Linked DNA regions of Homo sapiens: all the other regions are linked to region 3. Evidence: fine-mapped expression QTL. A gene starts in region 3. Each other region holds a variant in brackets. All regions are shown on one strand. Distances are from middle to middle. Region 1 has its middle 5.5 kb from the start of SYNC. Region 2 overlaps S100PBP (S100P binding protein). Region 3 holds the start of NHSL3 (NHS like 3). Region 4 overlaps RBBP4 (RB binding protein 4, chromatin remodeling factor).

The links. PIP is the estimated chance that this variant, and not a neighbour inherited with it, causes the effect.
Region 1: its variant is fine-mapped to the expression of NHSL3 in whole blood (TOPMed, PIP above 0.99).
Region 2: its variant is fine-mapped to the expression of NHSL3 in fibroblasts (GTEx, PIP 0.90).
Region 4: its variant is fine-mapped to the expression of NHSL3 in whole blood (TOPMed, PIP above 0.99).

What each region holds. Positions count from the first base shown.
Region 1 is chr1:32,704,226-32,712,269 of GRCh38, forward strand. No RefSeq gene overlaps it. Among named protein-coding and RNA genes, the nearest start is that of SYNC, 5.5 kb to the left of the region's middle. RefSeq lists a silencer at 7,993-8,044. The variant G/A (reference allele first, on the strand shown) is at 4,256.
Region 2 is chr1:32,839,938-32,847,981 of GRCh38, forward strand. All of the region lies in intron 5 of S100PBP (S100P binding protein), which reads left to right. Among named protein-coding and RNA genes, the nearest start is that of S100PBP, 26 kb to the left of the region's middle. The variant G/A (reference allele first, on the strand shown) is at 3,997.
Region 3 is chr1:32,737,755-32,745,798 of GRCh38, forward strand. It overlaps NHSL3 (NHS like 3), which reads left to right and starts at 4,076. Exons shown (of 7, transcript NM_020888.3): 1 at 4,076-4,435. The coding sequence starts at 4,201.
Region 4 is chr1:32,676,697-32,684,740 of GRCh38, forward strand. RBBP4 (RB binding protein 4, chromatin remodeling factor) reads left to right here. Exons shown (of 12, transcript NM_005610.3): 12 at 2,944-8,044. The coding sequence ends at 3,009. SYNC (syncoilin, intermediate filament protein) reads right to left here. Exons shown (of 5, transcript NM_030786.3): 3 at 7,562-7,686; 4 at 7,314-7,393; 5 at 3,210-5,164. The coding sequence ends at 5,154. Among named protein-coding and RNA genes, the nearest start is that of SYNC, 22 kb to the right of the region's middle. The variant G/A (reference allele first, on the strand shown) is at 4,096.

The sequences.
Region 1 (8,044 bases), 34 kb before region 3:
TTGCTGTGGTACCAAGCAACAGGCGGCAAGGGTGGCATTCAGAAGAGCTGGCTCTGCCCCTCCAACCCCCAGCCCAGGACCTGGCCTTAGGCTGTCCCTAGGACTGAATTTCTGACCCGCTCCTACCCTCCTGCTCAGCGCTTCTTTAGGCTGAAACCCTGAATTCCCCAGGGTCCCAGAAACTTCCCCACCTCCAAGCCTTTGTTGTTGTTTTTTTTGTTGCTGTTGTTTCTTGCAGTCAGGGTCTCACTCTGTCATCCAGGCAGGAGTACGGTGGTGCAATCATGGTTCACGGCAGCCTCAACCTCCTGGGCTCAGGTGATCCTCCCATCTCAGCCTCCCGAGTAGCTGGAACTACAGATGCACACCACCACACCTGGATAATTTTTGTATTTTTTGTAAAGACGAGGTCTCACTGTGTTGCCTAGGCTGGTCTCAAACTCCTAGGCTCAAGCAGTCCTCCTACCTCAGCCTCCCAAAGTGCTGGGATTACAGGAGTGAGCCACCACACCCAGCCAGGCCTTTTCTGCTGCTCCCTCTGCCTAGAAAACCCTTTCCAGCTCTTCACAGCCCACCTTTTACTCTCCTTCAGGTCTCAGATCACATCTCACAGAGGCCTTCTCTGATGCCTCCCCACCCCCTGCCCATAATGTCCACCCATTTATTTTTTTGTTATGGGCTTTTTTGTTTTGTTGGGTTTTGTAAAATTTTATTTAATAGAGATGGGGTCTCACTATGTTGTTAAGGCTGATCTCAAACTCCTGGCCTCAAGGGATCCTCCAGACTCAGCCTCCCAAAGTGCTGGGATTACAAGCAGGAGCCACCATGCCTCACCCCATTTACTGTTTATCCCTGTCACCCTGTTTATTTTCTGTGCAGCACTTATCAATCTGCAACAATACTATTCATTTTCTTTCTTTTTTTTTTGAGACGGAGTCTCACTCTGTTGCCCAAGCTGGAGTGCAGTGGTGCAATCTCAGCTCACTGCAAGCTCCGCCTCCTGGGTTCAGGCCATTCTCCTGCCTCAGCCTCCGGAGTAGCTGGGACTACAGGTGCCTGCAATCATGCCCAGCTAATTTTTTTGTATTTTTAGTAGAGACGGGGTTTCACCGTGTTAGCCAGGATGGTCTCGATTTCCTGACCTCGTGATTCGCCCATCTCGGCCTCCCAAAGTGCTGGGATTGCAGGCATGAGCCACCGCTCCCGGCCAATACTATTCATTTTCAATTATTTTCTTCTCTGCTTCCCCACTAGAATGGAAGCCCCATGAGGGCAGAGACTTTATGTGTCTTGTTTACTGCTGTGTCTCCAGAGCCCAGCACAGGGACTACCACATAGTAGGACCTTAAAAAAATTGTTTGTTTTTGTTTTTTATAATAATAACAATCATTTATTTTACCCACAGATCTGTGATTTGGGCACGGCTTGGTGGAGGCAGCTCATTTCTGCTTCACGTGGCATCAGCTGAGGTGGCTTGCCCAGAGGTTGCAGAACTCGCGTCCAGGACAGCTCACTCATGTGGCTGGCAAGTTGATGCGGTCTGTCAGCTGGGAGCTCAGCAGGGTATTTGGCTGGGGGTCTTGGTTCTCCTCCACATGGGCTTTTCCACGGGTTGCTTGTGCTTCCTCATGGCATGGTGGCTAAGTCCCAACAGTAAACGTCCCAAAAGAACAAGGCAGAAGTGAAAGGCATTTTTTTTGAGCTAGCCTTGGAAGCTACACACTGTCACTGCTGACCTATTCTGTTGCTAAAGGCAGTCACAAAAACCCGGGCCTCCAGCTCATGGGGAGGGGACATAGATGCCACCTTTTAATGGGAAGGGTGTGTCAAAGTCACAGTATAAGAAGAGCTTATGGAATGGGATATAGTATTGCCTCTGTCTTGGGAAAATACAATCTGCCAAAGATGCAGAATCACAGCTTGGTCTTCCACCATCTCCAGACTGTGGCCCTAATCCACACCCATCCAAGACCAGTCCAAGCTCCCTTCTAATGCCTCATTCTATCCAATGAAAGTAAAAAGGAGGGGTCGCTCACCTCACACCACTTCTGATTGTGTCCTATTGCCAGAGCTCAGTCACATGGCCATATTTAGCTTTAGTGGCTTATTATAAAGGATATTGAAAAGGATACAGATGAAGAGATGAATAGGGCAGAGTTATGGAGGAAGGGGCATGAAGCTTCCATCCCCTCCCTGGGCACACCATCCTCCAGGAACCTCCATATGTTCAGCTATCTGGAAGCTCCAAAAAAATTGTTGAATGAATGAAGGGAAGGAGGATGGTTTTACTTAGGCTAATTTAGGCAATATTTGATGCCTGCTGTGTGCTAGGCCTGGGCCACTCACCTCTCAGGAGCCCCAGTCTACTCAGGGAGACAGACACACATGTGCCCAGATTGCATACAGCAAGGCAGTGTGAGGTATTTGAGCCCATAAGATTCAGCTCACTTGGCAAACATTGGCACTTGGGCTGTGCTGGGCCCTGTGTCAGAGCAAACAGCCTTATTTGGCCCAAGCCTGCAAGAAGCTTTCAGTGTAGAGGAAGCTAGAACCGTCTCCTGGGGAGAAAAACCTATGCAGAAAATAATGCCAAATCACTGGGCTGAGTGATGTGATAGACATTGAGAACCAGGGAAGCCAGGGATGGATGGGAGAAATTAACTCCGGGACTGGGGATGGCCTCGTGAACAAAGTACCTGGGCCTGGAAGGATGAGAAAAGCTGTTCTGGAATCAGGAATCAGGCACAGACTCTGCTTTGAAGGACAAGCGCAGCCACTCTTAACTCTCAGCCCCTCCACAAAGCCAAACCCAGGAGGAGGAGAGAGGCCCCTGGGCTGGCTACTCTTAGCCTAACCTTCCTTCTCAGAGCTTTGTGTCCAGGAGCTGACTCCTGCGGCCAGCGTCTCCTGGGCCCCCTTGCCTTCTGGTTTCAGGTGGGGTTTGGCCAAACTGGGGACCCTGGCAGGAGATCAGAGAGGGAGGAGAGTGAGATCAAGATATTTATTTTTATTTTATTTTTTATTTTTGGGGGGACAGAGTCTCGCTTTGTCACCCAGGCTGGAGTGCAGTGCCATGATCTCAGCTCACTGCAACCTCCACCTCCTGGGTTCAAGTGATTCTCGTGCCTCAGCCTCCCAAGTAGCTGGGACTACAAGCATGTGCTACCACACCCAGCTAATTTTTGTATTTTTACAAAATACAAAGAGACAGGATTTTGCCATGTTGGCCAGGCTGGTCTCAAACTCCTGACCTCAGGTGATCCACCCGCTTCAGCCTCTCAAAGTGCTGGGATTATAGGTGTGAGCCATCACACCCAGCCTAGATAAAGATATTTATTATGCCCCCTCCCTGCCTGTGACTTTGGCATTAACTATATTCCTCCCCCAAAAGCCATGGCTCCTGTTGGGTGGTTTGTACCCATGGGTACAGCTCTGGCCAGGTTCCTTAACAAGGCTCCCTCCCCTGCTCCTTCAGGCCCAGGGGTAATGATTCCATTCCACCATTGCGAGTCCCAGGTGCTCCGCCATTCCTGCCCACACCTCTGTGAATGGTCTCTTCATTAAATCCTCTTCTGGCAAACACTGAGTGTTTGAGTGTGCCGCTGTTTCCTGCTGAGATCCCTAAGATAAAAACTGAACCTTAGAAAGCTGGGCCCTGGACAGATAACTTAGGGAGACTTTCTTTCTAAATACCCCCCACAGCTGGGTGTGGTGGCTCACACCTCTAATTCCAGGTGTGAGGGAGGCTGAGGCAGGAATATTGCTTGGGTCCAGGAGTTCAAGGCTACGGTAAGCAATGATCACACTACTGCATGATGCCCTACTGCCTGGGCAACAAAGTGAGACCCTGTCTCCAAAAACATACATAAATAAATCCCCACCGGCTGGGCTCCGTGGCTCACGCCTGTAATCCCAGCACTTTGGGAGGCCAAGGCAGGTGGATCACCTGAGGTCAGGAGTTCAAGACCAGCCTGGCCATCATGGTGAAACCCGGTTTCTACTAAAAATACAAAAACTAGGCCGGGCGTGGTGGCTCACACCTGTAATCCCAGCACTTTGGGAGGCCGAGGCGGGCAGATCACGAGGTCAGGAGATCAATACCATCCTGGCTAACACGGTGAAACCCCGTCTCCACTAAAAATACAAAAATTAGCTGGGCATGGTGGCGGGCACCTGTAGTCCCAGCTACATGGGAGGCTGAGGTAGGAGAATGGCCTGAACCCGGGAGGCGGAGCTTGCAGTGAGCTGAGATTGC[G/A]CCACTGCACTCCAGCCTGGGCAGCAGAGCGAGACTCTGTCTCAAAAAAAAAATAAATAAATAAACAAATAAATAAATAAATAAAATAAAAATACAAAAACTAGAGCCACGCGTGGTGGCTCACGCCTGTAATCCCAGCACTTTGGAAGGCTGAGGCAGGTGGATCACCTGAGGCCAGGAGTTCGAGACCAGCATGGCCAACCTGGTGAAACCCTGTCTCTACTAAAAATACAAAAATTGGCTGGGTGTAGTGGCTCATGCCAGTAATCCCAGCTACTTGGGAGGCTAAGGCAGGAGAACTGCTCGAACCTGGGAGGTGGAGGTTACAGTGAGCCAAGATTGTGCCACTGTGCTCCAGCCTGGGCAACAAGAGCAAAACTCTGTCTCAAAAAAAAAAAAAAAAAAAAAAAAAACGCACCAAAAACCAGAATCAGAAAAGTTGTGAACAAATTTCATCTCGAGTGAAGACTTCTGGGTGCCACTCCAGGCAGGGTCCCCACCCAAGGGGTCCCTCTGTCTTAGGACTGTAGTTTCTGTGGCTGGTAGAATGGGGCAGGCAGGGGACTGTGAGTGAGTGGACATGCGTGTGGGAGGAATGGATGGATGAGCTGGGAAGTGGAGAGGCACCAGAGGGCAGCAGGGGAGGCATGGCCTTGGCAGCTGTCTCTACCAGACCCCAGAGCAGATCCTATAGGACCCTGGGAAACCAACCTCCCTGAACCTCAGCTCCCTCTCAGCAAAATGGGCAATTAACACCCTCTTCACAGGGTTGTTGTGAAATGCAATCAAATGTGAGGCTCAACACATGAGCCACTGGAAGTGGAGCTGCTCTCCAAGCTGAGAGTAGCACATTCCCCATTACTACTGATGCAGGTGGAGGCCATTCTGCTCACTTTTTTTTTTTTTTTGAGACGGCGTTCTTGCTCTTGTCCCCCAGGCTGGAGTGCAATGGCATGATCTTGGCTCACTGCAATCTCTGCCTCCTGGGTTCTCCTGCCTCAGCCTCCTGAGCCACCTGCCTCCACACCTGGCTAATTTTTGTATTTTTAGTAGAGAAGGGGTTTCTCCATATTGGCCAGGCTGGTCGTGAACTCTTGACCTTCAATCCGCCCTCCTGGGTCTCCCAAAGTGCTGGGATTACAGGCATGAGCCACCACGCCTGGCCTCTGCTCACTTTCTTTGTGCCAAGAGCTCCAGCAACCCGTCTAGAGGTGGGAGGAGGGTGGTACAGAGATGCCCTGGCAGGGCCCTCAGACCCACCACTTCTGTTTTTTGTTTTCAGACAGAGTCTTGCTCTTGCCCAGGCTGGAGTGCAGTGGTATGATCAGTGGGACCACAGGTGTGTGCCACCCCACCCGGCTAAATATTTTATTTTTTGTACAGATCACAGCCAGATAGAGGGGTATCTCACCATGTTGCCCAGGCTGGTCTTGAACTCTTGAACTCAAACGATCCTCCAGCCTTGACCTTCCAAAGTGCTGGGATTACAGGCATGAGCCACCGCACCCAGCCTTGACCTACTGCTTCTAGAGAGCCAGGGTATGAATCCAAGCTTTGGAGCGCTTACTTGCTGTGTGACCTTAGGAAAGTCACTCCACTTCATGGAAATTGTTTTCTTCTCTGTAAAATTAGATAACACAGCCAGGCGCGGTGGCTCACTCCTGTAATCCCAGCACTTTGGGAGGCCGAGGTGGGTGGATCACCTGAGGTCGGGAGTTCAAGACCAGCCTGACCAACATGGAGAAACCCCGTCTCTACTAAAAATACAAAATTAGCTGGGCATGGTGGTGCATGCCTGTAATCCCACCTACTCGGGAGGCTGAGGCAGGAGAATCGCTTGAACCCAGGAGGCGGAGGTTGCAGTGAGCCGAGATCGTGCCATTGCACTCCAGCCTGGGAAACAAGAGCAAAATTCTGTCTCAAAACAAAACAAAAACAAGAAATAATTAACTATTATTTTTGAAACTCCCCTTTCTCCTGCTTCCTCTCTCTGAAGCTGCAACCAGGGGCTGGCTGACTACAGCATGTGTTTTCACTCGCTCATTCATTCACTTCACCATTTGTTAGGCCAGACAATGTGTTAAACCCTAAGAACACAAAGACAGTAAGTCATTAAAGCAAGACCTATATCTGTATGACTTCATGGCTGTGTCCCTTGTCCCTAGGTTTTCAACAAATAGTGGCCAAATGATGTGTTCATGAAGAGTATAGTAATGAATAAGACAAATAGAAGAGAATAAAGAATGAAAAGAAAAAACAAATAGTGGCCAAATTAGTAAATGATGTTAGCTATATTCTTGAGCCCCTACTGCAAGCCAGATGCTAAACTAGTCTTTTTTTTTTTTTTTTGAGACAGAGTCTCGCTCTGTCACCCAGGCTGGAGTGCAGTGGCGCAATTTTGGCTCTCTGCAACCTCCACCTCCCGGATTCAAGCAATTCTCCTGCCTCAGCCTCCTGATTAGCTGGGATTACAGGCACCCACCACCATGCCTGGCTAATTTTTGTATTTTTAGTAGAGAGGAGATTTCGCCGTGTTGGCCAGGCTGGTCTCAGACTCCTGACCTCAGGTGATCTGCCTGCTTGGGCCTCCCAAAGTGCTGGGATTACAGGCCGGAGCCACTGCACCTGGGCTAGAAGGCATTTTATCTGCTTTAATGCAATAAATCTTCAGAACAGCCCTATAACATGGGGCCTGTAATAAAGCCCATTTACTGATGAGAAAACTGAGGCTTGGAGAGGTTATGCAACTTAGTTGACCAAAGTCACACAGAGAGGAAATGGTGGCACCCAAGATTCAATACACTGCCTCCACGAATAAATGATGTGTTATCCACATCATTGTCATTAACCTTGACTTTCAGAGACTTATAGTCTAGTGGGAATCTGGCAGCCTTTCCATCCTCAGACTTAGCCCCAAGGGGCCCAGGCATGGCCACAGACTTGTTTTGTGTCTCCGGGCAAATTACTTAACCTCTCTGGTTCTGCTTCCTTTTTTTTTTTTTTTTTTTTTTTTGAGACCAAGTCTTGCTCTGTCACCCAGGCTGGAGTGCAGTGGTGCCATCTCAGCTCACTGCAAGCTCCGCCTCTCAGGTTCATGCCATTCTCCTGCCTCAGACTCTCGAGTAGCTGGGACTACAGGCGCCCACCACCACGCCCAGCTAATTTTTTGTATTTTTAGTAGAGATGGGGTTTCACCATGTTAGCCAGGATGGTCTCGATCTCCTCACCTCGTGATCTGCCCACCTTGGCCCCCCAAAGTGCTGGGATTACAGACGTGAGCCACAGCGCCCGGCCACTTCTTTTTTTCTTTTTTTGAAACAAAGTCTCACTCTGTCACCCAGGCTGGAGTGCAGTGGCTGGATCTCAGCTCACTGCAACCTCCGCCTCCCGAGTTCAAGCAATTCTCCTGCCTTAGCCTCCTGAGTAGCTAGGATTACAGGCACTTGCCACCACGCCAGGCTAATTTTTGTATTTTTAGTAGAGACGGAGTTCCACTATGTTGGCCGGGCTAGTCTCAAACTCCTGACCTCAGGTGATCCACCCGCCTCGGCCTTCCAAAGTGCTGGGATTACAGGCGTGAGCCGCCGCGCCTGGCCCCCTGATTCTGCTTCTAGGAAATGAGATTGGGTGGGCGTTAAATGAGAAAATGTGCAGGAAATGCCCAGCCTTTTGCCCAGTATACAAGAGACACTTGATAAGTGTTCTTCTCTTTATTTCCTTCTTTCTCCCTGCCCTCTGGGACCGCTGTCTGGGAGCCATTGGGGCCTACCCGGTGCTGACCACCAGCCA
Region 2 (8,044 bases), 100 kb after region 3:
CGAGTAGCTGGGACTACAGGCTCACCACCACACCTGACTAATTTTTTGTTTTGTTTTGTTTTTTTGAGATGGAGTCTTGCTCTGTTGCTCAGGCTGGAGTGCAGCGGTGCAATCTCAGCTCACTGCAACCTCTGCCTCCCAGGTTCAAGCGATTCTCCTGTCTCAGCCTCCTGAGTAGCTGGGATAACAGGTGTGCATCCACCATATCCGGCTAATTTTTGTATTTTTAGTAGAGGTGGGGTTTTACCATGTTGGCCAGGCTGGGCTTGAACTCCTGACCTCAAGTGATCCACCCACCTTGGCCTCCCAAAGCACTGGGATTACAGGCTTGAGCCACCGCACTCGGCCTAATTTTTTGTATTTTTGGTAGAGACCGTGTTTTACCATGCCACCGCACCTGGCCCCCTATTTTCTGTTTGTTTGTTTATTTTATTTTGAGGCAGAGTCTTGCTCTGTTGCCCAAGCTGGAATGCAATGGCATGATCTTGGCTCGCTACAACCTCCCCCTCCTGGGTTCAAGCAATTCTCCCTGCCTCAGTCTCCCAAGTAGCTGGGATTACAGGCACCCGCCACCACGCCTGGCTAATTTTTGTATTTTTAGTAGAGACAGGGTTTTGCCATGTTGGCCAGGCTGGTTTCGAACTCCTGACCTCAGGTGATCCGCCTGCCTCGGCCTCCCAAAGTGCTGGGATTACAGGTGTGAGCCACCACGCCCGACCTATTTTCTATTTTTCAATGGGAGTCATCCTAATGGGTGTAAAGTGGTCAGTTTTTATAATTTTAGACTTTCTAATATATGTGTAGTGATATCTCATTGTAGTTTTCATTTGCATTTTCCTAATGAGTAATAATGTTGAGCATCTTTTCATGTGCTTATTTGCCACCTGTATATCTTCTTTGGTGAAGTATTTTTTGCTCATTTAAAAAATTGGATTATTTTCGGCCAGGCGCGGTGGCTCAAGCCTGTAATCCCAGCACTTTGGGAGGCCGAGGTGGGCGGATCACGAGATCAGGAGATTGAGGCCGTCCTGGCTAACACGGTGAAACCCCGTCTCTACTAAAAATACAAAAAAAGTAGCTGGGCATGGTGGCGGGTGCCTGTAGTCCCAGCTACTCAGGAGGCTGAGGCAGGAGAATGGCGTGAACCCGGGAGACGGAGCTTGCAGTGAACCGAGATTGTGCCACTGCACTTCAGCCTGGGCGACAGAGCAAGATTCCATCTCAAAAAAAAAAAAAATAAAAAAAATTGGATTATTTTCTTATTACTGAGTTTCGAGAGTTCTTTAAATACATGTTCCAAATGCAAGTTTCTTTGCCAGATAAGTAATTTGGAAATATTTTCTCCCAGTATATGCCTTGTCTTTTCATTCCCATAAGTGTCTTCTAAAGAACATAATTCTTAGTTTTGATGAAGTAAGTTTGTTTATTTTTATTTATTTATTTATTTTTCTTGGTAGTCACTGGTTATAGTAGATGAAGTAAGTTTAATCAGGTTTTTAAAAATTTTATGGGTGGGAAGCAGTGGCTCACACCTGTAATCCCGGCACTTTGGGAGGCCAAGGCAGGCAGATCACCTGAGGTCGGGAGTTTGAGACCAGCCTGACCAACATGGAGAAAGCCCATCTCTACTAAAAATACAAAATTAGCTGGGCGTAGTGGCGCATGCCTGTAATCCTAGCTACTCGGGAGGCTGAGGCAGGAGAATTGCTTGAACCCGGAAAGTAAAGATTGCTGTGGGCCGAGATAGCACCATTGCACTCCAGCCTGGGCAACAAGAGCAAAACTCTGTCTCAAAAAAAAAAAAAAAAAAAAAAAATTACGGATTATGCTTTCATGTGGTATCTAAGAAATCTTTGCTTAAAAGAAAAGGCCACAAAAATTTTCTCCTATGTTTTTTTCTAGAGGTTTTATAGCTTTAGGGATTACATTTAGATCTATGATCCTTTTAAAATTTATTCTGTATGTAGTGCAAGATATGGATTAAAGCCTGTAATCCCAGCACTTTGGGAGGCTCAGGTGGGAAGATTGCTTGAGCCCAAGAGTTTGAGACCAGCCTGGGCAATGTGGTGAAACCTTGCCTCTACCAAAAAAAAATTAAAAGGTTAGCCGGGCATGGTGACATACACCTGTAGTCCTTGCTACTCAGAAGGCTAAGGCAGGAGGATTGCTTAAGCCCAGAAGAGGGAGGTTGCATTGATGCACCACTGCACTCCAGCCTGGGTGACAGAGTGTAAGACTGTCTCAAAAAAAAAAAAAAAAAAAAAAACATATATATATATATATGTATATATATATATATACACACACACACACACACACACACACACACACACGTGGGAATGTAAGGCTTATTTTCTTGGCACATGGATATTCAATTGCTTCTTTACCATTTATTGAAAAGACTGTCCATTCTGCATTGAATTGCCTTTGTACCTTTGTCAAAAATCATTTGTCTCTAGAAAAATCAGGTTTCCAGGAAAAAAAAGACTAATGTGTTCCACTAGTGTTCTTATTTTTCAGTTGTGTTGGCTTTTGTAGATTCTTTGCATTTCCATATAAATTTTAGAATTAGCGTATCAATTTCTTAAGGCTTGGTGGGATTTCCATTGGGATTGTATTGAGTCTATATAAATAAATAAAACTGAGAGAGAATTAACATTTTATTTTATTTTTTTGAGATGGAGTCTCACTCTGTTGCCTAGGCTGTCGTGCGGTGGTGCGATCTCAGCTCACTGCAACCTCTGCCTCCGAGATTCAAGCAATTCTCCTGCCTCAGTCTCCCAAGTAGCTGGGATTACAAATGCCTGCCACTACACTCAGCTTAATTTTTTTATTTTTAATACAGACAGGGTTTCACCAAGTTGGCCAGGCTGTTCTCGAGCTCTTGACTTCAAGTGATCAGCCCTCCTCAGCCTCCCAAAGTGCTGAGATTACGGGTGTGAGCCCCCGCGCCTGACTGAGAATTAACATTTTAATATTGAGTGTTTTGATTAAAGTCTTCTCTAATTTCCTTCATAAATGTTTTGTAGCTTTTGTACAGTCTTGCACATCTTTTATCCAATTTATCCCGGAGTGTTTCATATTGTGATGCTTTTGTAAAATGATTTAGTTTTTAAAATTTCAGTATCTGTTCATTGCTATTATATAGAAATGTAATTGATTTTTGTGTCTTGGTCTTACATTCTATAACCTTCCTAAATTCTTTTATTAGTTTTAGTAACTTTTTAATAGATTTCATCAGGTTTTCCCTGTAGGTTATCTTATTGTCAGCAAATAAAGAAATTTTTACTTGTTTCTTTCTGACTTGGATGCCTTTTATTTTCTTTTCTGGTGCTGCCTAGAACCTCCAGTTAAGTACAAATGAGATCTTTTCTTTTTGTTTGTTGTTGTTGTTGTTGTTGTTGTTGAGACAAGAATCTCGCTCTGTTGCCCAGACTGGAGTGCAGTGGCGTGATCTCAGCTCACTGCAACCTCAGCCTCCTGAGTAGCTGGGACTACAGGCATGAGCCACCACACCCGGCTAATTTTTTTTTTTTTGAGATGAAGTTTCACTCTTCTTGCCAGGCTGGAGTGCGATGGCACAATCTCGGCTCACGAAAACCTCCGCCTTCCATGTTCAAGCGATTCTCCTTCAGCCTCCTGAATAGCTGGGATTACAGGCATGTGCCACTGTATCTGGCTAATTTTGTACTTTTAGTAGAGACAGGGTTTCTCCATATTGGTCAGGCTGGTCTCGAACTCCCGACCTCAAGTGATCCGACCACCTTGGCCTCTCAAAGTGCTGGGATTACAGGTGTGAGCCACCGCACATGGCCTAATTTTTTGTATTTTTAGTAAAGACGGGGTTTCACCATGTTAGCCAGGATGGTCTCGATCTCCTGACCTCATGATCTGCCCGTCTTGGCCTCCCAAAGTGGTGGGATTACAGGCGTGAGCCACCATGCCCGGCTGAGATCTTTTCCCATCCCCTTGTTGACTTTTTTTTTCTTTTTTTGA[G/A]ATGGAGTCTCGCTGTGTCACCCAAACTGGAGTGCAGTGGCTCGATCTCAGCTCACTGCAGTCTCCGCCTTCCAGGTTCAAGTGATTCTCCTGCCTCAGCCTCCCGAGTAGCTGGGACTACAGGCGCCTGCCACCATGCCTGGCTAATTTTTTTGTATTTTTAGTAGAGACAGGGTTTCACCATGTTGGCCAGGCTGGTCTTGAACTCCTGACCTTAGGTGATCCGCCCACTTCGGCCTCCGCAATTGCTGGGATTACAGGTGTGAGCCACTGTGCCCAGCCAATTTTTTGTATTTTTAGCAGAGGTGGGGTTTTGCTATATTGGCCAGGCTGGTCTCGAATTTCTGGCCTCAAGTATCTGCCTGCCTCTGCCTCCCAAAGTGTTGGGGTTACAGGTGTGAGCCATTGTGCCCGAACCTGTTACTGATTTTAGAAAAACATTTGGAACTGGGCACGGTGGCTCATGCCTGTAATCCCAGTGCTTTGGGAGGCCAATGTGGGAGGATCACTTGTGCCTAGCCTAGGTTACAGAGCAAACCCTGTTTTGTTACTAATTTTTATGAGATGGGGTCTGGTTCTGTCCCCCAGGCTAGAGTGCAGTGGGGCCATCACAGCTTACTGCAGCCTCTACCTCCTTAGCTCAAGTAATACTCTTACCTCGGCCTCCAGAGTAGCTACAGGCACGTGCCACTATGCCTAGCTAATTTTTAAATTTTTTTGTAGAGATGGTCTCCAGCTTTGGCCTCCCAAAGTAATGGGATTATGAGCATGAGCCACCATGCCCTTCCTGTTTTCTGATTTCTATTCCGAGATAGAGATATATATAGATATCTATAGATAGAGATATATATCTCTGTATAGATCTATAGAGAGATATATATCTCTATATATCTATATATATATATCTTTTTTTGAGATGGACTCTCGCTCTGTTGCCCAGGCTGGAGTGCAGTGGCGTGATCTCGGCTCACTGCAAGCTGTGCCTCCCGGGTTCACGCCATTCTCCTGCCTCAGCCTCCCGAGTAGCTGGGACTACAGGCACCCCCCACCATGCCCGGCTAATTTTTTTGTATTTTTATTATTTATTTATTTATTTATTTAATTTATTTTTGAGGTGGAGTCTCGCTGTTGCCCAGGCTGGAGTGCAGTGGCGCGATCTTGGCTCACTGCAGGCTCCGCTCCCCAGGTTCACGCCATTCTCCTGCGTCAGCCTCCTGAGTAGCTGGGACTACAGGCGCCCGCCACCTCACCCGGCTAATTTTTTGTATTTTTAGTAGAGACGGGGTTTCACCACGTTAGCTGTGTTAGCCAGGATGGTCTCGATCTCCTGGCCTTTCTTTTTTAAAAAATAGAGACAGTAGCCGAGTGTTGTGGTGGCACATACTTGTAGTCCCAGCTACTTGGGAGGCTGAGGTGGGAGGAACCCTTGAACCCAGGAGGCTGAGTGAACCAATGTCGTGTCACGGCACTCCAGCCTAGGTGACGGAGTGAGACCCTGTCTCAAAAAAAAAAAGTTAAATAGAGATGGTATCTCACTGTTACCCAGGCTAGTCTCGAACTCTTGGCCTCCCAAAGTGCCACAATTACAGGCATGAGTCACCATGCCTGGCCTTGTTTTCTAGCTTTTTAATGTGGAAGATCAGATCATTGATCTTGAGAACTTTCTATTTTCTCTAAGCATTTTAAGCCATAGGCTCCCCTTTAGGCACTGCTAGCTGCATCCCACACATTTTGATATGTTTTCATTTTCTTTTTTTTTTTTTTTAAGATAAAGCCTTGCTCTGTCACCCAGCCTGAGTGCAGTGGTACAATCATGGTTCACTGTAGCATCAACCTCCCGGGCTCGTGATCTTCCTACCTCAGCCTCCCAAGTAGCTGGGACTACAGGTGTGTGCCGCCAAGCCTGGCTAATTTTTTGTATTTTTTGTAGAGATGGGGTTTTGCCATGTTGCCCACGCTGGTCTCAAACTCCTGGGCTCAAGTGATCTATCCACCTCGGCCTCCCAAAGTGCTAGGATTACAGGTGTGAGCCACTGGGCCTTGCCTTAATTAATTTATTTTTTTATTTTTTTTTGAGATGGAGTCTCACTCTATCACCCAGGCTGGAGTGCAATAGTGTGGTCTTGGCTTACTGCAACCCCCACCTCCTGGGTTCAAGCAATTCTCCTGCCTCAGCCTCCTGAGTAGCTGGGACTACAGGTGCATGCCACTACACCCGGCTTATTTTGTAGTTTTTTAGTAGAGATGGGGTTTCACTGTGTTGGCCAGGCTGGTCTTGAACTCCTGACCTCATGATCTGCCTGCCTCGGCCTCCCAAAGTGCTGGGATTACAGGCATGAGCCACCACGCCTGCCCTCCTTAATTTACTTTTATGTTTAAAGTAAATGTCTTATAGAGAGCATATAATTGGTAGCTGGGTCTTGCTTTTTTTTTTTTTTTCCAGTCTCACAATCTCAGTCTTTAATTGGAGCATTAATCCATTTACATTTAATGTACAATCCCATATGGCTGGATTTAAATCTGCCATCGTGTTACTTGTTTTCTATTTGTTTTTTGTTTCCACTTCCATCTTTCCCTGACTCATTTAATTTTTGTAGTATTTTTTAGTATTCCATTTTATCTCCATACTTACTGCCTATACCTCTTTGTTGTATTTTTATTATCTTATTAAATTTATTATTATTATTATGGAGATGGGATCTCACTCTGTTGCCTAGGCTAGAGTGCAGTAACATGATTATAGCTCACTGTAGTCTTGACCTCCTGGCCTCAAGCAAGCCTCCCACCTCATCCTTCAAAGTGTTGGGATTACAGGCATGTTATTTTTACTTTAAACAGTAAATTATCTTTCTTTTTTTTTTTTTTGAGACGGAGTTTCACTCTTGTCGCCCAGGCTGTAGTGCAGTGGTGCGATCTCAGCTCACCGCAACCTCCGCCTCCAGGTTCAAGCGATTCTCCTGCCTCAGCCTCCCTAGTAGCTAGGATTACAGGCATGTGCTACCACACCTGGCTAATTTTGTATTTTTAGTAGAGACGGGGTTTCTCCATGTTGGTCAGGCTGGTCTCGAACTCCCAACCTCAGGTGATCCGCCCACCTTGGCCTCCCAAAGTGCTGGGATTACAGGCATGAGCCACCGTGCCTGGCCGTAACAGTAAATTATCTTTTAAAGACATCATCTAAATAGGAAAAATAGCCTTTTATATGCACTCACATACTTACATTTCCAGTGCTTTTGATTATTTTGTATAGATCCAAGTTTCGATGTGATATTATTTTCCTTTTTCCTAATGAACAACTTGTAATGTTTGTTGTAGTGCACATCTACTGATGAAGTCTCTCTGCTTTTATTTAGAACCTGTTTATTTTGCCTTCATTTAAAAAACTTTTTATTTTGAAAAATTATAGACTTATAAGAAGTTTCAAGACTCACCTCAGTTGTTTCTCTTTCCTCGGGGATCACAATTTTCAGTAGTCTGAAAGCACTTGTTTCATAATTTTGCCTAGTTTCTAGTAGCTTACAGTGAGAGGTTAAGTCCCCCATTCATCTTAGCTACAAGTGGAAATATCTGCTTTGATTTTTATTGAAGATCATAAACAGCAATGGTTATATAAATTCTGATTCTGAATTTCCCAGTACTGTTGAGGACATTCATATATCATTCAGTATCCCCTGTATCACTTCATAAGTGAATTACATAATAACTCCTGTTTCTTCTACTTTTTCCCTTGCCTGCAAGGAAAATCAGTCAAGATTTCTACTAGATCATCGCAGTTTTGTTGACCTAGAGGTGACACATTTGCATTCTTGCCTTCTACTTATTTTTTCTTTTCATTTATATTTTATTAATCTATTTATAAAAGCAGTAGCCCATGTCCCCTGTAGCACATTTTTTCTTTCCTTCTCTCTTCATTCCCTCCCTGGTATTAAGTACTTTACATTGCATGGAATAGAGATATTATGATAGCCTTTAAGTAACTGAGTTTAAGGATTTACAGGAAAAGATGATTAGATGAGACTTTTCACCAGGTCTCGTAGTGAAAAGAATT
Region 3 (8,044 bases):
GGGTGCTGGAGTCAGGAGCAGTGAAGGGAATATAACCCTGAACTCTCCTCATTTCCCTTCTTCCTCTCCCTACCTGCAAATCAGAGGATCCAATCTGTGGGTTGATTCCTGGAAATTCTAGTTTGAGGGGAATTTCCCTGAGGAATTATATGAGACACTGGCAGGGCTATCTTCAGAGGCATGCAAACTGTGTAGTTATGCATAGCCCATGCTCAGAAAGGCTCTGTGCTTGGTTGAATGTTTTGCTGTTGCCTCTTTTTTTTTGAGACAGAATCTTGCTCTGTCGCCCAGGCTGGAGTGCAGTGGCACAGTCTCGGCTCACTGCAACCTCCACCTCCCGGGTTCAAGCAATTCTCTGCCTCAGCCTCCCAGGTAGATGGGATTACAGGCACCCGCCACTATGCCCGGCTAATTTTTGTATTTTTTTTTTTTTTTGGGATGGAGTTTCGCTCTTGTTGCCCAGGCTGGAGGGCAATGGCACGATCTAGGCTCACTGCAACCTCTACCTCCCAGGTTCAAGCGATTCTCCTGCTCAGCCTCCAGAGTAGCTGGGACTACAGGCATGCGCCACTATGTCTGGCTAATTTTTGTATTTTTAGTAGAGACAGGGTTTCTCCATGTTGGTCAGGCTGGTCTCGAGCTCCCGACCTCAGGTGATCCGCCTGCCTCAGCCTCCCAAAGTGCGGGGATTACAGGTGTGAGCCACTGCACCTGGCCTAATTTTTGTATTTTTAGTTGAGACGGGGTTTTACCATGTTGGCCAGGGTGGTCTCGATCTCCTGACCTCATGATCCGCCCTCTTTGGCCTCCCAAAGTACTGGAATTACAGACGTGAGCCACCGTGCCCGGCATTTTTATTTTTGAGACGGAGTTTTGTTCTTATTTTCCAGCCTGGAGTGCAGTGGCACCATCTCGGCTCACTATAACCTCTGCCTTCTGGGTTCAAGCGTTTCTCCTGCCTCAGCCTCCCGAGCAGCTGGGACCACAGACAAGCACCACCATGCCTTGCTAGTTTTTTTGTATTTTTATTTATTTTATTGAGACGGAGTTTTACTCGTCGCCCAGGCTGGAGTGCAATGGCATGATCTCGGCTCACTGCAACCTCCACCTCCCGGGTTCAAGTGATTCTCCTGCCGCAGCTTCCTGAGTAGCTGGGATTATAGGCGCCTGCCAGCAAGCCTGGCTAATTTTTTTTTTTTTTTTTTTTGAGATGGAGTCTCACACTGTCACCGGGGCTGGAGTGCAATGGCGTGATCTTGGCTCACTGCAAACTCCGCCTCCTGGGTTCAAGTGATTCTCCTGCCTCAGCCTCTCGAGTATCTGGGATTACAGGCGCTTGCCACCTTGCCTGGCTAATTTTTGTATTTTTAGTAGAGACGGGGTTTCACTATGTTGGCCAGGCTGGTCTCAAACTCCTGACCTTGTGATCCACCTGCCTCGGCTTCCCAAAGTGCCAGGACTACAGGCGTGAGTCACCTTGCCCGGCCTGCTATTGCCTCTTGAAATTCTTTTTTTAAAAGACAAAGTCAGGCCAGGCACAGTGGCTCACGCCTGTAATCCCAGCACTTTGGGAGGCCGAGGCGCGTGGGTCACCTGAGGTCAGGAGTTCGAGACCAGCCTGACCAATATGGCGAAACCCCGTCTCTACTAAAAATACAAAAATTAGCCAGGCGTGGTGGCGGGCGCCTGTAGTCCCAGCTACTCAGGAGGCTGAGGCAGGAGAATCGCTTGAACCCGGGAGGTGGAGGTTACAGTGAACCGAGATTGTGCCACTGCACTCCAGCCTGGGCGACAGAGCAAGACTCAGTCTCAAACAAACAAACAAACAAACAACAACAACAACAAAAAGACAAGATTTCACTCTGTTTCGCAGGCTGCAGTTCAGTGGCGCGAACATGGCTCACTATAGCCTTGACCTCCTGGGCTCAAGGGATCCTCCCACCTCAGCCTCCCGAGTGAGTAGCTAGGACCACAGGCACTTGTCACCACACCTGGCTAATGAAAAACAATTTTTTTTTTGGAGAGATGAGCTCTTACCATGTTGCCCAAGGCTGGTCTCGAACTCCTAGGCTCAAGCAATCCTCCCACCTTGGCCTTCCAAAGTGTTGGGATTACAGACATGAGCCACTGTGGCAGGCCTTGAAATTCTTAATAAGTTTTTTTTTTTTTTTTTTTTTTTTTTTTTTGAGACAGAGTCTCGCTCTGTCACCCAGGCTGGAGTGCAATGGTGCAATTTTGGCTCACTGCAACCTCCGCCTACCGGGTTCAAGCAATTCGCCTGCCTTAGTCTCCCAAGTAGCTGGGACTACAGGCATGCACCACCACACCCAGCTAAGTTTTTGTATTTAGTAGAGACCGGGTTTCACCATGTTGGTCTGGCTGGTCTTAAACTCCTGACCTCAGGTGATCCATTTGCCTGGGCCTCCCAAAGTGCTGGGAATACAGGCCTGAGCCACCATGCCTGGCACCTGTAACACTTTTCTCTTGAAAACTGCATTCTCTACATTCCCTTTCCTCACCAACTAACAGAGGAAGAGGCTGGGTTCTTAGGAGTGCTAGGCTGGGCCAAGAGCACCCAGAGTACAGGGCTGGTTCCTGATCCAGAATGGGTGCTCTGGGATTGTGGGCTGGATCTGAATGAATGGTGGTTAGACAAGAAACTGAGGCCCAGCATGGACACTGGGTGGTCTGCCCCAGGGCCCCCAGGTGGGAGAGTGTCAATGATGTCCCAGGTTCACCACAGCTGAGCCCCTGGGGACATGCAGGGGGCTAAGGCAGGTTAGGGAGATCCCACTGCACTCTAGTAATCCTGCAATGTTATGGTGAGTGCTATCTACAGTGCGCCGGGGCTGACTGGGCTGGGTGGCCCAGACAAATGGGCCCCTGCCCTCGTGGAGACCAGGACCAAGAGAAAGCCGTGTGACCAGAGTCAGATTGGGTGATTCTGGCCACCCCACTGGTATGGACATCACAAGGCCCTTCTGGGGACTGACGGAGGAGGTTCAAGGGTGCTGAACCCACAGCTGGTCCCCAGCGCAATTTCTAGTCCTTAGGGTTTGAAGCCTTGGACCAGCCTGAGACAAAACCCAGATGACCATCTTGGCTCCTCTCCCGCTGACCACCTCTGTCCCCTTCTGGCCTCCATTTCCGTTGTCGTGGGATCAGATGATATAAAAGGGCTTGGTCAGCTGTAATAGACCCAGAGGCCTGTAGGCAATGAGTACAGCAATTTCAGGATTCTTAATGTTTCCTTTCCTACCAGCCTCCCAGTCACACCTCTCACCTGCCCAGAGTTCAACCCTAATTAGTGTTGAGCATCTCAGTGGGAACTCCTGGTCCAGGCAGGAGTGCCCTGGGGCCTCAAATCCTAGTCCAAGGGTAAACGGAGGAAGGGCTATCCTCATCTTGCCACCAAAGGGTGAGGCAGGAACACAGTGGACCTGGGCCCCCGCTGCACACCGAAGATGGTTGGAGCCTGGAAGGTGTGGTAAAGAGCGAGGAGGCGACCCCAGTCAGCAGATGGGAGGGAAATGCCCACTGCGGGTCACAGGTCTTGGACGTGTCTGAAGCCTCTATTCCTGGCGCAAGCGCCCCAACACTGTCGGGGCTTGGAAGGAATTCTCCAAATTCCCTTATTCCAGGAAAAAATATTCCAGAATCCCCTGTCTATTCCCAGCCCAAACTTGGGATACCAAGTCTCCTGGGGTCCAACCCCAGCCTCTCGCTCCTCCTTTCCTGCGCCCTTCCCCTTTCCGTCCCCACCCCATACCACCCTCTTCCGAACAGATCTCCCGCGGTGCCCCCTGCGGGACGGAACCTCAGTGCCGCCCCCTCCCGGGCGGCCCCACGACCCGCCCTCTCGGGCCCCAGCGGGGGGCACGACCCCGGGCTCCCGGGACCCCCTCCTCTCGGGACTGGACCTCGCCCTCCGCCGGGACCGGGGGAGGCGGGGAGGGGCCGCAGGCAGCGGCGCTCCCGCCCTGCGGCCGCTCCCGCCCCGCTCCTTCCCTCCCCGCCGGCCTGCGCCCCGCCCGCCGCTCGGCCGGCCCCTCCCGCGCCGCTCCCGCCGTCCGCTCTCCGCGCCCGCTCGGCCTCCGCCGCCCAAACTTTTCTCCGGGCGCGCGTCCCCGGCGGCCGCCCCCGGCATGGGCACCGCGCCGCAGGGGGCCTGACCCGCCGCCCGCTCCGCCCCCGCCTGCCATGGCGGCCCGCGCGCCCCCCGCCGCACCTGCGGCCGAGGAGCCGGGGAACCCGGGCGGCCCCCCGCGCAGGAAGAAGTCCCGCTCCGGCGCGTCCGGCCTCCGCCGCGCCTTCAGCTGGCTGCGGGGCAAGCGGCGCAAGAAGAAGGCGGCGGGGGCCGAGGGCGCCGAACCGGCCGCCCCCCGGGCCAAGAAGGCGGAGGACAAGGCCAAGAGGGCCAAGGGCAAAGGCCGAGGTAAGGCGGTCGGCACCTGGGCTGAGCGCGGGGGGGCGTCGAGGGTGCGGCCGAGGGGGCTCTGCCGGGGGTCCGCGCGCGGCGTGTTGGAGGGGGGTGACCCCCAGGAGCTGGTGCTGGAAAGCGAAGAGGCCAGGGCTGAGTCCGAACACTTCCACCCTGCGCTGCCTTCCGCAGTTTCCAGACCCAGTCCTGCCCCGCTGTGAGGGGAGGGGACCCCCGGCTGGGGCAGGGATCCCCTGGCAGAGCAGGAAGTGCTGGTAGCCCGACTCCAGGGCGGTGAGGCGATTCCCCCTCCCCCAGGCTCACCGAGGTTCTGCCCTCTGCTGAGTCAGGGGGTCAGAGACTTAACGCTGGCCTGTGGCCAATGGGAGAGACAGGTGGCCTTGGGTCTCTGGTGGGGACCCTCTGGGTCTGGAAGGTCAACCGCACTCACAAAGAGTTTCAGCTCCAGCTGGATCTGGATTTCCAGCCCCACAAAGGACCTCACATGGAGCACAGTGTGCCCTGCCTTAGCTTCTTAACAGTGCTGGCTTTTCCCACCTGGCCTCCCTCAACGCTCACCTGGGCCAGGCCACAAACATCACCTCCTGGGGTAGTGAGCTCACCAAGGTGAACCAACCCGCCCCTCCCTATCACTCCTTCTTCCAGCCCTGGAGAAACATGCCAGTGTCGGAAGTGTGCTTACAGATGGGGGAAACTGAGGCCCAAGCTCAGTGGAGAGGCTGTACCTGGGCTGGGGTGGGTACTTAAAATTCAACAGCTAATTCTCAGTCTTTCTGAATTTGAGTCCCTGGGCTCCTCCTCTGGCCTGGACGGGCAGCCTGAAAGGCGGGGAAGCCGACCTGGCCCATCCCTGCTGGGGTCATTTTCAGTTCCTTTCTTGGGCCTTCCCTCATTTTCCAGTTTCTGTCTTCCTTTTGATGGGGAGGGCTTGAGTCTTTGCAAGAGGGTGGAGCTCCCTTGGGGCTTGCTGTCCTGGGAAGTCCACCTTTCCTAGACTGCTGCTGCAGTGCTGGAGGTGAGGAAATGGCTGGGTGTGCGGGCCCATCCCATTCTGCCTGTGTTTACCCTCCCAGTGTCCTTTAACCACCTCTTCTGGGAGAGTTAGAAGGAACACTTTAGGGGTCAGGAAGAGGGTGGAAAGCCTCATGTGTGATTGTATCCGGCTTGATCTTCCTTTTGGATAAGGGCCCTGCTTCCCTGCGGCACAGCCACACATAGAAGTGAGGGTGCTGGGGCTGGGGTGACTGGGCCAAACCCTGAGGGAGGACTGGATTTGGGTGAGGGGTGTTTCCAAAGCCTCTGCAGTCCTAACAGGACATGGAGTCTGTCCCAGGGCTGCCCCACTGGGATTCAGTCTGAAGTCATCCCCGTCTCATTCAAGAGGGCATTGCAGCAGGATGTATTGTGGTCAGACTGTCAGGATTGGCAGGCAGAAGGCTAGTGGACTAGCAGTGTATACTCCAGGGCAATGGACCTTTTTCCTCTGGGAGACCAGCCTGGAAGGCAGGGGGCTGGAAAAGCTGAGCCTGTAGGTCACTGCTCCAACAGCCTGGGTTTGGGTTCATTGGGTCAGTGGCCAGGCCTCCCTCTTGCCTTGTGTTTGGTATCAGGTGGCTCTGGGCTTTCTGGGCAGCATGTCGGCCTGATTTGAGCCCACGTGCATGGGTAACACCTCCTTGCCCCTGGCTGTTGTTTCTCCAGGTCTGGAGGTGGCCCTGGGTATGACTGGAGGAAGTCCTGTTCCCTTTTACTCCAGCCTCCTATTATTGCAACTGTTTCCTTGTCACCTGCCTGGCCCAACTTCTTTTCTGTTTATTAAGAGAAATAAATCTGATCCCACTAATCTCCACTGGCAACGCTGGCCAGGAACGGGAAGCCTGCAGAAGGCTTAACTCTTTCAGGGAGAATGTTCAGAATGGAGATTGGGAGAGGTGGGGAGGAGGGATACACAGGAGATTCCTGGGAGGTCAGGGATCTTTGCTGGGGAAGTCATTATCTCCTCCATTCCAATCTCTGGCTCAAAGACCTATGAGAGGCAGGTCTTGATTCCTCTAATCTGACTCTCCTACTTTAAGATGGAAAAACTGAGCTTGTCATGGAGTTTTGAGCACCAGTCTTCCATGATTCCCTTGCTGACCTCACTACCCTGCACAAACTTAGAAGAAGAGAGGAAGTCTGACATTTATTGATTAGTCTGAATATGTCAAGATCTTACTTGCAGATGAAAAAATTGAGGCTCAGGGACAGTGAGTGACTGATTTGACCAAACGGATTTAAACTCAAATCACCTGCCTCAAAAATCGGGACTGTTTTCATGACTCTCCCAAGGACATAGAGCAGCAGGTAAGGCTTGAAGATCTTCTTGTTCAACTCACTTTACAGATGGGAAATGGCCCAGAGAGAGAAGTGAGGGAACTTGATAGAGTGGGGAGAGTATCAGAATCAGGCCAATGAGAGTTTAAATCCTGGCCCAGCTACTAGCAAGCCCCATGATGTAGGATGAGCAACTTCTCAGTGGGCTCCCTGATTCCACCACTGTCTTGTGGGGAAGAAAGGGGGAATCCTCTGGCTGGACATTGCCTTGATGGGCTGTGACCTTTCTGTCTCACCAAGATTCTCACAAGAGAGCATATGAAAATTATATTAAAGGCTGGGCGTGGTGGCTCATGCCTGTAATCCTAGTATTTTGGGAGACCGAGGCGGGCAGATTGCCTGAGCTCAGGAGTTCGAGACCAGCCTGGGCAACACGGTGAAACCCCGTCTCTACTAAAATACAAAAAATTTGCCAGACAAGGTGGCGTGCACCTGTAGTCCCAGCTACCCGGAAGGCTGAGGCAAGAGAATTGCTTGAACTCGGGAGGCGGAGGTTGCAGTTAGCCAAGATTGCACCGCTGCACTCCAGCCTGGGCAACAGAGCGAGACTCAGAAAAAAAAAAAAGAAAAAAAAAAGAAAATTATATTAAAGAGAAGTAACCATAGAAATGCAAGGGGTTGCTATGCCTGTGTTTATAAGTTTAGTCACCTGAGCTCTAACGACCCAGTCTGGAAGGAATGGGCTCTGGGCCTAAGAACAACTTTGCTTGACTGGGCGTGGTGGCTCACACCTGTAATCCCAGCACTTTGGGAGTTTGAGGTGGGTGGGTCATGAGGTCGCGAGTTTAAGACCAGCCTGACCAACATGGTGAAACCCTGTCTCTACTAAAAATACAAAAATTAGCTGGGCGTGGTGGCGCGTGCCTGTAATCCCAGCTACTCAGGAGGCTGAGGCAGGAGAATCGCTTGAACCCGGGAGGTGGAGGTTGCAGTGAGGCGAGATTGCACCACTGTACTCCAGCCTGGGCGACAGAGCGAGACTAGGTCTCAAAAAAAAAAAAAAAAAAAAATGGACAACTCTGCTTCCCTGGTCTGCCCCTCTCAAGCTACAAGATGCTGGCAGGTTATTCACCCCTCCAAGCCTCAGTATCCTTATCTGTAAAATAGGGATAATAAATCCTAGCTTTATAGGGGCCTTTCCAGGATCAAATGAGCTAACAGACATGCAAGTGCGTTGTGAACTGTGGAGCATGGTGCAGCTGGCAGCAGGTTTCTGCTGTTGTTATGCTG
Region 4 (8,044 bases), 61 kb before region 3:
TTATAATTTTTTTACAAAAAAGATGTGTAACTTGAAAACAGAAAATTCACCTCACTCTCTTTGTAATAAATCCCTTCAATATTAATACAGAAACTTAATAGCTGGGCGTGATGGCACGTACCTGTAGTCCCAGTTCCTTGGGAGGCTGAAGTGGGAGGCTAGCGTGATCCCAGGAGGCAGAGGTTGCAGTGAGCTAAGATGGCGCCACTGCACTCCAGCCTGGGTGACAGAGCGAGACCCTGTCTCAAAAAAAAAATACTGAAGAATTCAAGGTTAAACTAGATCCCTGCAAGGCCATCACCTCCATTCCAAGTTGTTACTTTATTTGGTGTTTTTAGCATTGTAATAGAGTAAGTAAATATTTGGTCTTTGTCCCAGTTCTTGGCACAGAGCTCTCCAAAAACACTCGGAGTTTGCAGAGTGCTAGGAGTGTCTTTGTCGTTCCTAGTGATCCACTTTGGACCACACCTGAGTTTGTTCTACTGTGAGGTGATTTTGGTGGGGCCCCTAGATAGCCTCATAGTTGGTTTAGTCAGAAAGGCCAATCACTTGATTTGAGGGTTAAAACTTGTCGGCCCACTTGCCAACCTTGGGGTTGCAGGGCCAGAGATTGAACTCTATAAAAACTCCTAATTTGATGTGCTTCTGGATTGGTGAACAACTCGACATACTGGGTGGGTAGCATGCCCAGAGACTTGATGGAAACTCTGCAGCCCCTCCCCACCTTGCCGTATGCATCTCTTCCATGTGGTTCCTCAGTTGTATCCTTTATTTAAAAAAAAAAACAAAACAAAAAACAAACAAAAAACAGTAATAGTAAAAAGCTTTCTTGGGTTCTGTGAGTCATTCCATCAAATTATCAGACCTGAGGAGGCAGTAGTGGGAACCCTGAAATTTGTAGTCAAGTGGGATAGAAGTGTGCAGGTAGCCTGGGACCAGGGAATTGCAACTGGCTTCTGAAGTAAGGACAGTCTTCTCCAAAGCTAACTTCAGATAGTGTCAGAATAGGATTGAGTTGTACACCCAGTTGGTGTCCTAAGAAAGGGTACCCCACATTTGGTGTTAGAAGTAACGTCAGAAAGCATCACACAATTGTATGTATTCTTTTCTCTGGGGTCAGATCACAAGCTCTTTGAAGGTAAGACTATCCTGTCCTCTGCAGTACCTATCATAGTGATATGTGCATGGTAGGTGCTAAGAGCAGTAAATTTTGCTCCTGTGAAAGTGGTTCCTGTATTTTAAGATTATGCCGTTGGATACAGGTATTCTGTCAAGCAGTAGAAGTAGAGTTTATTCTATACAAGAACAGTTTTTCTCTTCAATATATAGAGATTCGGAACATATTGTTTTGGAAGTTTTAAGTGTGCAGTTCAGCAGTCTTCAGTGTATTTACAGTTGTGCAACCATCAACCACAGTCAATTTGAGAACATTTTCATCATCTGAAAAAGAAACCCTGTACCCATTAGCCATCATTTCCTATTTTTCTCATAGTCCCCCAGCCCTAGGCAGCCACCAAGCTATGGATTTGCCTGTTTTGGACCCCTGTTTTTTTTAGACGAAGTCTTGCCCCCCAGGCTGGAGTGCAGTGGTGTGATCTTGGCTCACTGCAACCTCCGCCTCCTGGGTTCAAGCGATTCTCCTGCCTTAGCCTCCCAAATAGCTGGGATTACAGGCGCCTGTCACCACGCCTGGCTAATTTTTATATTTTTAGTAGAGACAGCGTTTCACCATGTTGGCCAGGCTGGTCTCGAACTCCTGACCTCAGGTGATACGCCTGCCTTGGCCTCCCAAAATGCTGGGATTACAGGCGTGTGCCACCACACCTGGCCTGGACACCTTATATAAATAAAATCCTAAAGTATGTGACAGCTTTTTTTTTTTTTTTTTTTTTTTTTTTTTTTTTTTTTTTTGGCACACAGTCTTGCTTTGCCACCCAGGCTGGAGTGCAGTGGTGCAATCTTGGCTCACTACAACCACCACCTCCCAGGTTCAATCAATTCTTATGCCTCAGCCTCCCAAGTAGCTGGGACCACAGGGGTGCACCCCCACACATGGCTGATTTTTGTATTTGTAGTAGAGATGCAGTTTCGCCTTGTTGGTCAGGCTAGTCTCAAACTCATGACCTCAAGTGATCTGTCTGCCTCAGCCTCCCAAGTGCTGGGATTACAGGTATGAGCCACCACACCTGGCCTGACTGGCTTTTTTATGCCAAATAATATTCCATCATATGGATTGGATATACCGTGTATCCATTTTAGTAGTTGATGGATATTTGGGTTGTTTTTACTTTTTGGCTATTATTAATAATGTCTGGTTAGGCTGGGCACAATGGCTTACTCCTATAATCCTAGCACTTTGAGAGGCCGAGGTGGGCAGATCACCTGAGATCAGGAGTTCGAGACCAGCCTGGCCAACATGGTGAAACCCCATCTCTATTAAAAATACAAAAATTAGCCAGGCGTAGTGGCATGTGCCTGTAATCCTAGCTACTCTGGAGGCTGAGGCAGGAGAATTGCTTGAACCTGGGAGGCATAGGTTGCAGTGAGCCGAGATGGTGCCACTGCACTCCAGCCTGGGAGACAGAGCAAGGCTCCATCTCAAAAGGAAAGAAAAATAATAATGCCTGGTTAAAGAACTCAAGAATGTTGGCTATCAAGACAAATAGTATCCACACTGCAGTTTTGTGGGAATGTCCTAATCAGGCGTCTGGGGATCAGCTGCTTATTTTTATTGGAACATGATCATGCTAATTAATATTTCATTACCCATTATAGGTTGTCTCCGGATACTTTCATCCAAGAGTTGAATAGTTGTAACACAGATTGTGTGGCCCAAAAGCTATAAAGTATTTACTCTCTGGCTTCCTGGCCTAATCTGTTGTTGAAACCTTGAGTTTTAGAAGAAGTCTTCATGTTTAAATTCTTTTTCTTGTTTTTGGGCAGGCAGAGAACATTTATAATGATGAAGACCCTGAAGGAAGCGTGGATCCAGAAGGACAAGGGTCCTAGATATGTCTTTACTTGTTGTGATTTTAGACTCCCCTTTTTTCTTCTCAACCCTGAGAGTGATTTAACACTGGTTTTGAGACAGACTTTATTCAGCTATCCCTCTATATAATAGGTACCACCGATAATGCTATTAGCCCAAACCGTGGGTGTTTTCTAAATATTAATAGGGGGGCTTGATTCAACAAAGCCACAGACTTAACGTTGAAATTTTCTTCAGGAATTTTCTAGTAACCCAGGTCTAAAGTAGCTACAGAAAGGGGAATATTATGTGTGATTATTTTTCTTCTTATGCTATATCCCCAAGTTTTTCAGACTCATTTAAGTAAAGGCTAGAGTGAGTAAGGAATAGAGCCAAATGAGGTAGGTGTCTGAGCCATGAAGTATAAATACTGAAAGATGTCACTTTTATTCAGGAAATAGGGGGAGATTCAAGTCATATAGATTCCTACTCGAAAATCTTGACACCTGACTTTCCAGGATGCACATTTTCATACGTAGACCAGTTTCCTCTTGGTTTCTTCAGTTAAGTCAAAACAACACGTTCCTCTTTCCCCATATATTCATATATTTTTGCTCGTTAGTGTATTTCTTGAGCTGTTTTCATGTTGTTTATTTCCTGTCTGTGAAATGGTGTTTTTTTTTTTGTTGTTGGTTTTTTTTTTTTTTTTTTTAACTTGGGACCACCAAGTTGTAAAGATGTATGTTTTTACCTGACAGTTATACCACAGGTAGACTGTCAAGTTGAGAAGAGTGAATCAATAACTTGTATTTGTTTTAAAAATTAAATTAATCCTTGATAAGAGTTGCTTTTTTTTTTTAGGAGTTAGTCCTTGACCACTAGTTTGATGCCATCTCCATTTTGGGTGACCTGTTTCACCAGCAGGCCTGTTACTCTCCATGACTAACTGTGTAAGTGCTTAAAATGGAATAAATTGCTTTTCTACATAACCCCATGCTGATGGGTTTTATTTAGTATAAAACATCCATCAAACACCAGTCTCTGGCTTCTAGAAGAGTCCTTCAGATGACAGTTGTTGTCCATGGTCTTTGACTATCAAGAGCAGAATTAAATGTAATAGTCCCAGA[G/A]CTGTAGAAAAGAACTTTACTCCTTCCCAGGGAAAGTGAAAGACATAAAACACTGAATCAGAGGTGGCACAGATTAGTCTTTGATAAGGTAACGTTTCTTTGAAGTCTATCTGTAGAGAACTACATGGACTTCCAAGAGTGTCAAAGGCAGTGTGGTAGAGAGAATTTAAGGCAAGATTTAAATTTGGAAAAGGTGCTTGAACCTTTTCTCAGAGGTTTTATTTCCCCAGTATGTTTTTCACTGGGGCCTTTACTTAGGTTAGAAATAATAGGCTTTGAAGGCCTCTATCACCAGATGCAATAACCAGATAAAATTCCTGTTTTTTCCCAATCGCTTAGTTTTTTGTTGTTGTTGTTTTTTAACTGAGTAGATCATTCTGACCCAGAACTACTTTCATGAGGTAAGATCTTTGGGAAAATCTGAATAGCGTTAACCATTAGATTCAAATCTCAAATGGTTTCTTTTCAAGTCTAGTTGTTTTAGAGTATAGTGAGAAATACCTTGACACAATTTTAAGAGTAAACTATATGGGTCAGCATATCCTTGAACAAAAAGTAGACTTTGTAAAAGTATTCATTTAAATTCTAACACTCGTGGCACAAAAGAATGGAAATTGTAAACCCATGTAATGGAAATTGGCTATCTTTTTGACCCCACATGTGCCCCTCAAAAATGTTTTTGGTTTGGGTCAACACAAGGCAAGATACATTCTTTAAAATACTCCCAGATGTGTCCATACATTCATCCTTCACTCAGTGCATATGTGAGGGTTGTTGCTGGAAGACAGGAGGCTCATCTTTCCTTTCCTTGGTGCATTGAGATCAGTATCAACAGCAGATGAAATAGAATCCAGCAAAGAGTTGACATGTTCTGCCTCCGGCCAACTCTAGAATCTTTTTAAGCAGGTCAGCCAGTATTTGCAACTTCCACAGGATGAATTGCTTGCCAAGTTTCTGGCACTCTTGTCTGGTTGGAAGAGTACATCCAAAGGGTACTTAGTGATCCTTTGCTAAGAAGTTTTTTGCTGTTTCCGGGTTACAGATTTGGCCATATATTTCTAAACAGCCCCTGTAAAGTTGAAAGAAAAAGTTTATAACAGTGAACTTCTGAGGTTTAGTTACTGCAGGCTTTGTTGAGAAGAGATTGTTACAGTGTGATTTATGGATGATCAGGGATGACTTTCCCCTAGCAAATATTTGGATGCCTCCTGTTTGTCAAATAGAATGAATGGTGATGGTGATGGGAGGGATAGTTAAACGTTTTCTCTGCTAGGTTAACTTCTTACAGGTATAATTACAATGCCTGAAATTCTGTAGTTTCATTTCTTTGGATTAGTCGTTGTCTTTTCCAGATTGTACACAATCTGATCAACACAAAGGTAGTTAGTAGATCATTAACCTCAATTGCAAGGTTATAATTTCTCAAACATTAAGCATATTATCAGTCATGTGGATTCAAACACAGTATAAGAAAATCCTCAAGGCTGGGTGTGATGGCTTATGCCTGTAATCCCAGCTACTTAGCAGGCTGAGGCAGGAGTATTGTTTGAACCCAGGAGGCAGAGTTGCAGTGAGCCAAGATCGTGCCACTACTCCAGCCTGGGCAAAATAGCAAGACCCGACCCCCCATCTCTACTAAAAAGAAATTTAAAAAAATAAAATCCTAGAAAATTAGAAAAAGCAACAATAGTTACTTGTGGGCCAGGCGCGGTGGTTCACGCCTGTAATCCCAGCACTTTGAGAGGCTGAGGCACGTGGATCACAAGGTCAGGAGTTCAAGACCAGCCTGGCCAAGATGGTGAAACCCCGTTTCTACTAAAAATACAAAAACTAGCTGGCCGTGGTGGCATGCTCCTGTAGTCCCAGCTACTCAGGAGGCTGAGGCAGGAAAATCACTTGAACCCAGGAGGTGGAGGTTGCAGTGAACTGAGACCGTGCCACTGCACTCCAGCCTGGGTGGCAGAGCGAGACTGTCTCAAAAAAAAAAGAAAGTTGTGAATTTGATGTAAGCTTAGGAAATGAATAAAATTTATAGGCATCTGTATAATGTACAACTTGACACGGACTTTCTTTTATCCTTAGTTTCTTTCACGGACTCTAGAACTTTTATCAGAATATACTGGTAAAACATTGGGGGAGGGATCCTGAGTAGGTGATTGGTCAGAAAGATGCCTTCAGTTTTGTCAGTGTCTAAAAGTTAAGTCTGTTTAGGCCAAGCATGGTGGCTCACACCTGAAATCCCAGCACTCTGGGAGGCCGAGGCAAGTGGATCACAAGGTCAGGAGATGAGACCATCTTAGCCAACATGGTGAAACCCCGTCTCTACTAAAATACAAAAAAATTAGCCAGGCGTGGTGGTGCGTGCCTATAATCCCAGCTACTTGGGAGGCTGAGGCAGGGGAATCGCTTGAACCCGGGAGGCAGAGGTCACGCCACTGCACTCCAGCCTGGCAACAGAGCAAGACTCCGTCTCAAAAAAAAAAAAAAAAAAAAAGAGTAAGTCTGTGTAACATGAACATCTCTGCTTCCACCCAAAACCACAGCCTTTGAATATTATATAAGGAACTTAATGGATAGATATGTTTATTATTTTTGATAGCACAACTGCTTTCTCTGCTATTATAAGGAAAACTGAGAATAGCAGGTGGGTAGGGTAGGATGAGGAAACAAGATGCCCAAAGCCTAGATGCCACAGAATTCATGGTGATAATCAGGGCATATTTTGAGTCCTACTAGAAACAAACATTCCAAATGAACTCTGAATGCCTGACTCAGGCGTTTTGGAGGTTTGGGTTATCCCCTTGTCATTAGGCACACAAGGGTTTTTTGTTGTTTTTGTTTTTTGGGTTTTTGTTTTGTTTTGAGGCAGTCTCACTCTGTTGTACAAGCTGGAGTGCTGTATTGTGATCTTGACTCACTGCAACCTCTGCCTCCTGGTTCAAGCGATTCTCCTGCCTTGGCCTCCTGAGTAGCTGGGATTATAAGTGCCTGCCACTATGCCCGGCTAATTTTTGTATTTTTAGTGGAGATGGAGTTTTGCCATGTTGGCCAGGCTGGTCTTGAACTCCTGACTCCAGGTGATCCACCCTCCTCAGCCTCCCAAAGTGCTAGGATTACAGGCGTGAGCCACCCCGTCCGGCCTGTTTTTAAGGCATTAATTAGTATTGTTAGGAAAGCAGTAACAATGCAAACACCACTCTTCTCTTCACAAAGATCACCTTGAGACTGTGTCTCCATTCCACCTGCCTGAGAAGTGGGAGCATCAGCCTGTTCCAGGCTCTTGGGTAGTAGCATAGCCCTTTAAAAAGAGAGAGCCATTTTCCATGTGTTTTTGGATAAGCACAATTTGAAAATCATTTCCCAAATCCTCTTTTTGTTTTTGATTCTAAGGTAAAATTTTCCCTAAGCCCTCCCACCATCCCCTCAGCCAGTATTAGATGAGATTTGTATAGCAGCAGAAACTGACTTATAAGTAGAGAGCTCTTCAGCAAGACTGAGCCTTAGCTGTTCCATCTCTTTGTTCTTCTGTTGCTGGAGTTGCACCCCATTTCTTAACTGCCTCTGGCGTTCTTCCATTTCCTCCAGCTGTTCCTGCATGAGATGGCCAAGAACATTTCTAATGAGCCAAACAATAAAAACTCACATTGTCCACTCTTACTTATAAAACACTTTTTTGTTCATTGTTTAATCTTGATAGCAGTATTGAGGCTGGTATTTATATGATAGGTTATGAAACAGGTTCAAAGAAGTTGTGTCTTGGAAAAAAAGTGACAATGCTTTTGAAAATGATGACGAAAAAGGCATCTTGTCTGTTAACCACAGCTTGCTTTAATAGAATCCTGGGAGGGTGATTGGGACTTTTTAGTATTACAACCTTAGTGTCATTGAGGAGGATTTTGGTCTAGTTAGTGGGCTGAGTTTCATATACCTCTCCCTCCATGTGCAGGTT